Regions from separate parts of the Homo sapiens genome. Here region 1 is linked to region 2. Evidence: fine-mapped expression QTL. A gene starts in region 2. The other region holds a variant in brackets. All regions are shown on one strand. Distances are between the middles of the regions.

Evidence for each region. PIP is the estimated chance that this variant, and not a neighbour inherited with it, causes the effect.
Region 1: its variant is the best candidate, but not a certain one, in a credible set for the expression of LRRC58 in whole blood (INTERVAL, PIP 0.75).

What each region holds. Positions count from the first base shown.
Region 1 is chr3:120,309,221-120,314,598 of GRCh38, reverse strand. No RefSeq gene overlaps it. Among named protein-coding and RNA genes, the nearest start is that of GPR156, 27 kb to the right of the region's middle. RefSeq lists an enhancer at 647-1,250. The variant C/T (reference allele first, on the strand shown) is at 2,358.
Region 2 is chr3:120,346,112-120,351,489 of GRCh38, reverse strand. LRRC58 (leucine rich repeat containing 58) reads left to right here and starts at 2,136. Exons shown (of 4, transcript NM_001099678.2): 1 at 2,136-2,746. The coding sequence starts at 2,247. It also overlaps the pseudogene BTNL12P. RefSeq lists a silencer at 2,141-2,470 and an enhancer at 2,821-2,870.

The DNA.
Region 1 (5,378 bases), 37 kb after region 2:
ATTCTTTCCATCTTTGAAGTTGCTGTCTTTTTTGTCTTTATCCTATTTGGTGACCTTGGGGACCTGATTATAGTAGTGTTGGGTTCAGGTGACTGACTTCATTTCTGGAAGATTTTAGGGGGCCAAGCTTCAGCTCAGGACTCCTGGACTGCATGTTCTAACTCTGGGAGACTGGTATTGAGCCCCAACTTTGTTCTCTGGCTCCTCGAGGTTATGAACCTATTGTGCTGGAGGGGCCAAGGTGTTCCCAGACTACTGGTCACAATACTCTAATGGGTGATGCCATCCAAAGCACATCATAGCAGGGTGACAGTGTGATCTGTCCTAATTTGCCTGTGCCAGCTGCAGCAGCAGCAGCAGCATGGTGGGATGCATACTGCATGCTCATCAGCTACAGCAGGGTACTAGTGGGTACTAGGGTGGCAGCCTTCATGGGGCTGTGTGCATGTTCCTCTGGTGGTGGTATTAGTACAGGGTTGGGGCACTGGAGGGTGCAGGACTGTGTGAGGTCTCTGTGCACATTCACACCCACAGCAGTGGCTGGTCAGAGCAAGGGTGGGTTCACTATTCTCCATGACTAGTTATGTGCCAGTGGCAGTGTTGGCACAGAGGCAGGGCACTTGCAGGGGTAGGACTGGCAAGCTCCATGCTCACCACCATCTGACAACAATGGCATTGTGACGGGGGAGGGGAGCAGGGTGCAGTCACCCTGGCAGCAGTGACATGGCAGGGTGCACACACCCACACATACTGGCAGGGAAGGTAAGGCAAAGTCTGCCTTCATACACATACACTGGCACAGTGATGCAGGGGGTGGCTGTGGGCAAGTGCATGCAGTCAAAGTGGCATGGGGGAGGCTGCAGTGGAGGGAGGGCACAGGCAGGCTGGTGTGTGTCCATAGGGGCCACTCTGCTGGAGCACTCTGCTGGTCAGACAAGGTCTGCCAGTCTTCGGATGTCCTAGTCCCTTGGGGGGAGATGTTCCTCCTGGCTGCGTGTAGTTGGCCATCTTAGAGAGAGAGCCAGGAATTTCTTTCTAGTTCTAAGAAAACATAGAATCAAAGGATTAGCAGCAAGAACTTGAGAAGTCATCATCACACCACTTTTTGCAAAAGGACAATTAATCCATTAGGGTAAAAACATATCCTATGTTTAAATAACTCCCAGAAGATTTTTCTTCTTTAGGAATTCTGAAGCTTAACAATGGTCACTAAAGGAAGCATTTTCTTTCTTTTCTTTCTTTCTTTCTTTTTTTTGAGACGTTTGAAACAAGAGTTTTGCTCTTGTTGCCCAGGCTGGAGTGCAATGGTGCAATCTCAGCTCACTGCAACCTCCACCTCCTGGGTTCAAGTGATTCTCCTGCCTCAGCCTCCCAAGTAGCTGGGATTACAGGCATGTGCTGCCAAGCCTGGCTAATTTTGTATTTTTAGTAGAGACAAGTTTTCTCCATGTTGGTCAAGCTGGTCTCGAACTCCTGACCTCAGGTGATCCACCCGCCTTGGCCTCCCAAAGTGCTGGGATTACAGGCATGAGCCACCACACCCAGCCAAAGGAAGTATTTTCTAAGGTTCTTGTGATTTGTGCTAGCCATATTAGATGTGCAGATAACTTTTAAATTGTTTATGTCATCAGAGAAGCACAGTGACACTAAGACGTGTGCACTACCCATTATGTTATTTTTGTACCTTGGTCTGGCTCTAAAATCTTGCTGCTCTCACTTTCTCCCAATCCACAGTTCTTCCCACCACTATAAACGTCAAGGCACACAGGAGTTGTTAGGGACAGACTCCCCCAAGAAAGCTTCTTGGTGCTGCCCACACTTCCCCCAAGTCTCTTTACATTTCTAAGCCCTTGTCTAGGCACCACGGTGAAGCCAGCAGACTTCACTTATCAGACCTTGCTGCAGTAAGCAAACCCCAATTACAAACCATCTGGACCGCACAGTGGGAGGTCGTGGGAAGCATAAACAAACTACCTACACCCTCCTATAATAAACCTCACAAGGTGATATGTGGCAAAATTAACCCCATTGAATCCTTTCTTGAAATTCTTTAACATAGTTCCTAACAAGGTAGGCTTACTTTGTGTTTTACTCATTTTCCTCAGGAGACAAAACAACACTCTTACCACAAAGAGGGAAGGGAAAAAGGGGCAAAAAGTCACTCACTCACCAAGCAATTCACACTAAAACCAAAGTATGGATAAGGAGTTACTTATTCATCAAGCAATTTGAGCCAAGTCAGAACCGAAATCAAAGCCAAAACAGTTCAAAACCAAAAGTCAATACTGAAATCTAAACCAAAACAGTGCAAATCTAGTCAAAATCAAAACCAAAACCAAGGTGCCAAAAAGGCACGC[C/T]ATGGGTGATCAGGCCACACTTCCACTCAGATGGAGTGGGCAAGTTCGAAGACCGGTCTTACCGTGTTCCAGATGTCCGGACTCCAAGCGCCAATTCCTTCCCGGTGTTCAGCCGCTGCATTAATCCTCCGCGGGGGCCTACCGTGCAGTGCTCTGGAGGCGTTCCACTGGGGCAATTGCCTACCGGGGAGCGCTCTCAGGATTCGCATCGCCAAAGCTGGCCAGAGTCTCCCACAGGGATGCTCCACTGGGCAGGCCTAAGCCGCCTAAGGGGCTGCCTCGACCATCCGCTTATCACCTTGCTTCCAGATCAGGGAACCAAGAAATGTAGCAGGACAAGCCACAGACAAAACCCCTCAGACACCGAGTTGAGGAAGGAAAGGGCTTTATTGGCCAGGAGCATCAGCAGACTTATGTCTCAAAAAAACCGAGCTCCCCGAGTGAGCAATTCCTGTCCCTTTTAAGGGCTTACAACTCTAAGGAGGTCGAGTGAGAGGGTCATGATCGATTGAGCAAGCAGGGGGTACCTGACTGGGGGCTGCATGCACCGGTAATCAGAATGGAACAGAACAGGACAGGGATTTTCACGATGCTTTTCCATACAATGTCTGGGACACAAGCAGTTAAGTCAGGAGTTGATTGTTAACTACTAGGCCCAAGGCACGTTGCTGGGCTGCCTGCCTGTGGATTTCATTTCTGCCCTTCAGTTTTTAATTCTTTTTTCTTTGGAGGCAGAAATTGGGCATAAGACAATAAGAGGGGTGTTCTCCTCCCTTACTATGACTCCTGCTTCTCAGGATACTCCACAACCAATCATGAGCCCCACTGAGTCAACAAAGCAAAAAACAATATATTAATATCTAAAGGAAAAAAAAAAGAAATAAAAGATTTTGCAACTTCAAATTCCTTACATGAGTGAAAGGAGATGATCACTGTTGAGACCCAAATTAGTGGGCTAGATGATCAAATGGGGAAAATAGCTTAGAACAAGGAGGAAAGATATAAAGTATAAAAGGAAAATATCTTAGGCCCCCAGAATCACTAAGGAAAACTCAAGCTGGAAACTGCTTAGGGCAAACATGCCTCCCGTTTTATTCAAAGTCACTCCTCTGCTCACCGACATAGATACATATCTGACTTACCCTCCTTTGGAAAGGCTAATCAGAAACTCAAAAAAATGTAACCATTTGTGTATCACCTATCTGTGACCTGGAAGCTCCCTCCCTGCTTCCTGCCTTTAGTTCAAGTTGTCCTGCCTTTCCAGACTGAACCAATGTACTTCTTACATACATTGATTAATGTCTCATGTCTCCCCAAATGTATAAAGCCAAGCTTTGCCCTGACCACTGTGGGCACATGTCATCAGGACTTCCTGAAGCTGTGTCATGACGCATCCTCAACCTTGGCAAAATAAACTTTCTAAATTAATTGAGACCTGTTTCAGATTTTCTGGGTTCACAAAAGCAATTAAAATCATGAGAGAAAGGATATGTGACATTTTGAGGATAGATCCAAGAAGTTTAGCATATTATATTGGGAGATCCAGATGGGGAAAAAGACACATAGAAGGAAAAGCAACATAAGAAAGGAGAAAAATTTTTGGACCAAGAAATACCTGAATCTACAGATTAAATGGATTCAACAAGTCCAGGCTTGATTGATAAATTCACACACACACACACACCCTTAGCAATATTCTGGAAAGATTCTGGAACTCTAAGGAAAAAAAGAAATCTTTACAAACTTTTCCACTCAGAAAAAATAAATTGCCTTATTAATTATAATGCAAACAGAATCAGACTTCTTGTGCATCAGCAGCAGCTAGAAGTTAGTGGAATATCTGCAGACTTCTGAAATGCAAGGACTCCAACTCAAGAATTTCTTGACCAGCCAAAGAATCATTTAGTTGTCAGAGTGATAGGAAGAAATTATTTGTAGGTATGTATGAAGTCAAAGACTAATGCCTACATTTTCCCACCCTAAGAAAATACTTAAGAAGTGACTCTAGCCAGATGATAGATTAACCATAAGAGAAACTACAAGATGATAAAGAAGGGAAGAAATGGTAGAGATATAGGAGCTGAAAAGAAATTATTTAGGCAGTTAGTGAGGGTAAGAGAGTCCTCGGTGAGGCTTCACTTTTAACAAAAAACAGCCCCAAAACCATTTCTTTTCTAACAAACAGCAGCCAGTAAAATCGAGCTGCAGACATAGATAAGCAAGCTGGAAGCTTGTGCAGGTGAATGCCGGCAGCTGTGCCAATAGGAAAAGGCTATCTGGGGCCAGGCATGTTCAACATGGAAGCTCCATCTTCCATTTTCTTTGTCACCATGTGTGCAGTAAAGAAACAGGGAACATGGTGCCAGCCAGGTAGAAAATTCCTTTGCATAATAAAAGATTAGGGTGCAGTGGCCAGCCTCTTCAGATGCTATACAAATGACACACCTGGTCCAACCAATTCTCTGCACCCTCTGCAAATCAGACACCACCTCCTCAAGCCCATCCGTAAAACCAGCCGCATCTTGCCAGGTTCCGGGAGATCCGTTTGGAACCCCCTCCCTCTGCACAAGGGAGCTTTTCTCTTTTGCCTATTAAACTTTCACTCTTAAACTCACTCCTTCTTAGTCCGTTTCCTTGATTTCCTTGGTGTGAGGCAATGAACCTGGGGTATTACCCCAGACAAACAACACTGCTTCAGTAGTGAGCAACAAAATGTAGAACAAATAAATCAATATAAAGACATATATAGACAAAAGATATCTAGATAATTACAGATGGAGAATGTGTAAGTGCAGATACAAAACAACATAATAGCTAGATATATGAAGCAAAACCTGTAAGAAATAAAAGAAGAATTTGATTAAATAAAATTATATTGGAAAACTTAAACTTTTTTTTCAGAATTGGATAAATTTGGTATATAGCAAATGTGGGATGGCATAGGAATTAAATAATACAATTAATAAATGATGTGGTATCTATGTGTAAGCTCTAACATCCCTCGAACTACAAGAAAACATG
Region 2 (5,378 bases):
AAGATAGTCATTCTATGTAAGTAGGAACCTACTCTAATTGGACATGAGATGTGCATTTTACACTGAAATTTACAGTTTCCTTGCCAATAGCTTCAATGAGGCAGAAACACAGTTTTCAACTTTTAGAAAGCAGTTTCTCAGTTATCTTAGCTGCTCAATGGTCTGGTTACATTTATCCTAAATTCAACAACCAAATAGTTGGAGACTTTATTAAATTAAAAGCTCCTAGTACAGCGTTGCAAGCAGTAGGTTTTCAAAATTTGTCAGGTTACTCATTTCTTTACCTACACCACTTTTTTTCTACTTCCTTTCCTTTATTCTATATAATGTGGAGTTCCCATACTAAGTATTTTTTTCCAAACTTTCTACTAGGAAGCCTCATTTGCTATTATTGAGGTTATCTTTTTCCCTTTAATTCCACTGATTTGTAATCTTACCTCTTATTTTATTTTTCTTGAGACAAAAAAAAAAAAAAGTGCAGGGCAGTGGCACAATCATGGCTCTCTGCAACCTCTACCTCTTAGGCTGAAACAATCCTCCCAGCAGCCTGTGTAGTAGTTGGCACCACAGGCGAGCGCCACTAGGCCCGGCTAATTTTTGTATTTTTTGTAGAGACGGGGTTTCCCCATGTTGGCCAGGCTGGTCTGGAACTCCTGACCTCAGCGATCTGCTGGCCTGGGCCAAAGCACTGGGATTACAGGCATGAGCCATGGCACCTGGCCAACTCTTATTTCTGAATTATGTTTGAATCCTTTCTTTTTCTCATTTTACATTACGTTCCTATCACTTTTTAAAATCCAAGATAAATATTTTAAAGCAAAAACAACTATTATTTTAAATATTTGTTATTTTCAGATATTAGGACTACTGTTAGAATGCTGGCTTGACCCAAAATAAGGTCTGTTCTTAAAAGGACTCTTTCAAAACAGATGACTCATCAGTTTTAAAAAGCATTCCACCATTAGCTTAAACATACAAAGTACGTCCTTCTAGGACTACCACTCAATCAGAAATTAAAGTTTGACTGCAGAGTAAAGGCATAGTTTCTCATACAAATAAATGACTGGCAAGAAAAAAACGACTTTCCTTTTTTAAGGAGGAAAGCAATTTAATGTCGTTGATTATACACGACCACTTAACTTTCTTATGTATAAGCTTTGTTAAAAAAAAAAAAAGCTAAGCATTTTTTCTCATTTCTATTCATTACTTTTCAAAATCATAAAATGTAATTTCAGAAAAGATTGAGTTTGGGACAAGGATGAAAAATACGTTAATTAGAATTACTAAATTAGTACCAGATCAGGATTTTCCCAAACTGTAGTTTTGACCTGCAGTACAAACTCTATGCTTTGAGTTTTTAAACTAACTCATTAATTTGAGCTATCTCAAATCATGCAACCGCCTCCATATCTCCCAAATTCACTCCTAGACACAACTTACACCAAAAGCCACGTATGTGCTTCTACAATTAAAACGGGCAAAACGTCCTTACTTGATACACATTTCTGCCTTAAAAAAGAAAAAAATAATTCTGTGGGGCAAGTAGTGCGGGTGTTACCCATATTTTATGCATGGGGCAACTGAAATCAAATCCCTGCCCTAGGCTATTTAACAGCGGAACCTCCAGTAAGGGTCCGGGGGTTCTGAGGTCTAGTCCAGCTGCGTTCACATTTCGAGGTCGGCTTTGTTAATCCTCGGACTTTAAATTCCTGCGGTTTTCTGTCATGGAGCTAAATCACCACTAAATTACTGTGTGCTCACAGAGTCCTGCAGACACGGGCCCCACTTTTAAACTGAAAAACAAGCGGGGGACGGGGGGGGCACGTGACGCGCGAACCCTCAAGGCGAGATAACCGAACATCCTTGGGCTGTTTGCCGAGGCAGTCTTGTAGCCCTGGAATAGGTCACCAGGCTCCAGCGACTATAAAGCGCGGCCGCCGAAACCCGGTCCGGCTCAGATGACAATTTGGCAGCCTCTGGGTGTCTGCCTCAGTTCTGCGCAGCCCATGCTGCGCTCTTGCCACTCCGCGCCCCGCGCCTCGTGAGGCAGAGCCCGCCCCGGAGCGGCGCGCGCACCCCAGGACTCGCGTCGCGTGACTCGGCCAAGGCGCGCAGGGTTTGCGCCCGCCCGCGCCACTTCCGACTCAGCCCTCGGTTCAGGTTCCGGGGCGCCGCAGAGCTCCCGGCCTCTGGACCGCGCGCGGCGCTCTGGGGAATCCGGCGCCACGCGCCGTGCGGTGGCCAGGATGGAGGAGGCCGGAGCAGCGGTGGTCACGGCCGGGGAGGCCGAACTGAACTGGTCCCGCCTCAGCGTGTCCACCGAGACGCTGGAGTCTGAGCTGGAGGCGCGGGGGGAGGAGCGGCGCGGGGCGCGGGAGGCGCTGCTGCGGCTGCTGCTGCCTCACAACCGTCTGGTGTCGCTGCCACGGGCGCTGGGCAGCGGCTTCCCGCACCTCCAGCTGCTGGACGTGAGCGGCAACGCGTTGACCGCGCTCGGGCCGGAGCTGCTCGCTCTGCGCGGCCTGCGCACGCTGCTGGCCAAGAACAACCGGCTCGGCGGGCCCAGTGCGCTGCCCAAGGGCCTGGCCCAGTCGCCGCTCTGCCGCAGCCTCCAGGTGCTCAACCTCAGCGGCAACTGTTTCCAGGAGGTGCCTGCCTCGCTCTTAGAGCTGCGCGCGCTGCAGACCCTGAGCCTGGGCGGCAACCAACTGCAGAGCATCCCGGCTGAGATCGAGAACTTGCAGAGGTGAGCGGGTGTGTGCCGGAGGGTGGGGAGGCCTCGGGCGGTGTCCGGGAACCCTGGGGCGCCGGGCCTGGGCACCTCAACGTTTGTCACGTAACTATTTCCAAGCTTTCTCTTTAACTGTGCGGTAGTGAGTTCTGCCCAACCATCTCAGCAAGTTGTTGTAAATACCTAGTATGTTCGCATGTGTGACTGTTTGGTGTGTTGTGTTTGGCCTATGCAGATTCTCGAGGCATTTTTTCTGTCTTCCTTATTGAATCTGGGGCGTGATCCAAACTGAGTGGAAACTCAAAACAGATGTAAATCAGAGGTTGTCACTTCTTTGCTCAAAAGTCTTCCGTGGATTTCCATCTCTATAGATCAAAGTACGTGCCTTTGAGCGTGGCGTACAAGGTGCTCTGATCTAACCCTTGCTTTCCACTACATTTGCAGCTTCCTCTTCTCTGTGGCAGTACCAACTACCATTTGTGGAGTTCAGTGACCTATGCATTTTCCCACGTAGAGAAAGCAGCTTGGAGTTGCTGGTAGGCACTCAGTATGTGTTGAATGGATGCAGTGCCTCTGTACACGTGCTGTTTCCCTTGCTTGGAATGTTTCCTTCACCTGGCAAACGCCTATCATCCTTCAAAAGCTATCTCAAGTTAATCATCTCTGTGATTCCTTTTTTACTACTCCCTGCACAACAATTTTTTTCGTTACTACTCCCTGCACAAAAAAGTACAGCCTATGCTGTACTTTCTCTGTGCTTCATTCATCTTGCCTTTGCATTTACCTTATTGGATATGATTCCTTGTTTACAGGAATTATCTGCTTCACCTACTAGATTATGCAGTAAATATGTTAAATTTAACTTTAGGAGGAAGCAGAGAAACAGGATAATAAAAGTGCCCGGTGGGGGAGTGGGAAATAGAGCCAAATGTATTGTACAAAACGAAAAAGAGGTATCTTCCATCTGTAAGATATTTTCACACTTTATTGTATTTTCAGAGATAACAGAACGTTAAAGGTAGAAGGGACCTCAGAGTTAAGTGGAGCAAAAGAATATTGGCCTGGGAAGGCCGGGCGCGGTGGCTCACGCCTGTAATCCCAGCACTTTGGGAGGCCAAGGCAGGTGGATCATGAGGTCAGGAGATCGAGACCATCCTGGCTAACAAGGTGAAACCCCGTCTCTACTAAAAATACAAAAAATTAGCCGGGCGCGGTGGCGGGCGCCTGTAGTCCCAGCTACTCGGGAGGCTGAGGCAGGAGAATGGCGTGAACCCGGGAAGCGGAGCTTGCAGTGAGCCGAGATTGCGCCACTGCAGTCCGCAGTCCGGCCTGGGCGACAGAGCGAGACTCTGTCTCAAAAAAAAAAAAAAAAAAAAAAAGAATATTGGCCTGGGAAAAAAGAACTCTTGGTGCTCCAGCCTTAGGCAAGTCACTTGTATCCTAACTGTAGCGTATCCTAACTGTAGCTTTCTAATCTACAAATGAAGCATTTGGGCAAGATGTCTCTTCATTTACTCTTCAATAGATATTTATTGAATACCTGCCCTGTGTCAGGCACTGTCCCAAGTATTGGGGATACAATGGTGAACATGATCCAGGAGACAGACATTAAACAACTAACTATGAACCTCATTATTTAATTACAGTGGTTATGAGTTCTATGAAGACCTACAGAATGCCTTGAGACAAAATGACAGAGGCACATGGGAAAGCCCAGAGGCAAGGAGGGTAACTACTAAAATTCTGAAAGAAGGACATTGTACTGGGAAGTGAGCAAGAGGGAAAGTGGCAAATATAAATTTGGGCAAGTCAGCCCGTGTCAGGTCTTGAAGGCTATGATAAAGTTTGGATTTTATTCTAAGTGCACATGAGAGAGTTTTAAGCATGTGTCTTGTTGCTATGCAAGAATGGAGTGAGGAGAGGGTGAAGAGATAGAGATTTTGAGGGCTGGTTTGAAGGAGGTCATTGTAATAGGATGAGAGATGATGGTAGCCTATACCAGCTTGATACTAGGAGAAATGCTAAGAAATGGAAGATTTCGAGAAAAGATTTAGAGGTAAAATTGACAGCCCTTGGTTCCTTCTAATTTTAATGTTGCATAATTCCAGCCTTGGAATTTTCTTAATATACTAACAGGAACCCAGGGAAAGTATTATTTCCATCACATGGGGAGAAAAGTAGGCAAAAATCCCATTTATTTAATACTTACAATGCAGTAGATCCTGTCATAGGTGCTAACTATGCTTTTTAATACTCACAATGATGCCATAAGATGATGTGCTCCCATTTTTCAGAGGCAGAAACTGAAGCTCAGAGAAATTAAGTCATAAGATTACAAGGCTAGTAAGCATTGGAACTGTATTTGACCTCTGTGGTCTGTGACTCCAAACCCTTGAGTTCTGCACAGTGGCAGAGTACTAGAACCTGAATCTTTGTTGGGGGGTTGGAGGGTCATGGTTTTTTGCTTGTTTTTGTTTTTTGTTTTTTGTTTTCTGTTTTTTTGAGATGGAGTTTCACTCTGTTGCCCAGGCTGGAGTGCAGTGGCATGATCTGGGCTCACTGCAATCTCCGCCTCCTGGGTTCAAGTGATGCTCTTGCCTCAGCCTCCCAAGTATCTGCGACCACAGGAGCGTGCCATCACGCCAGC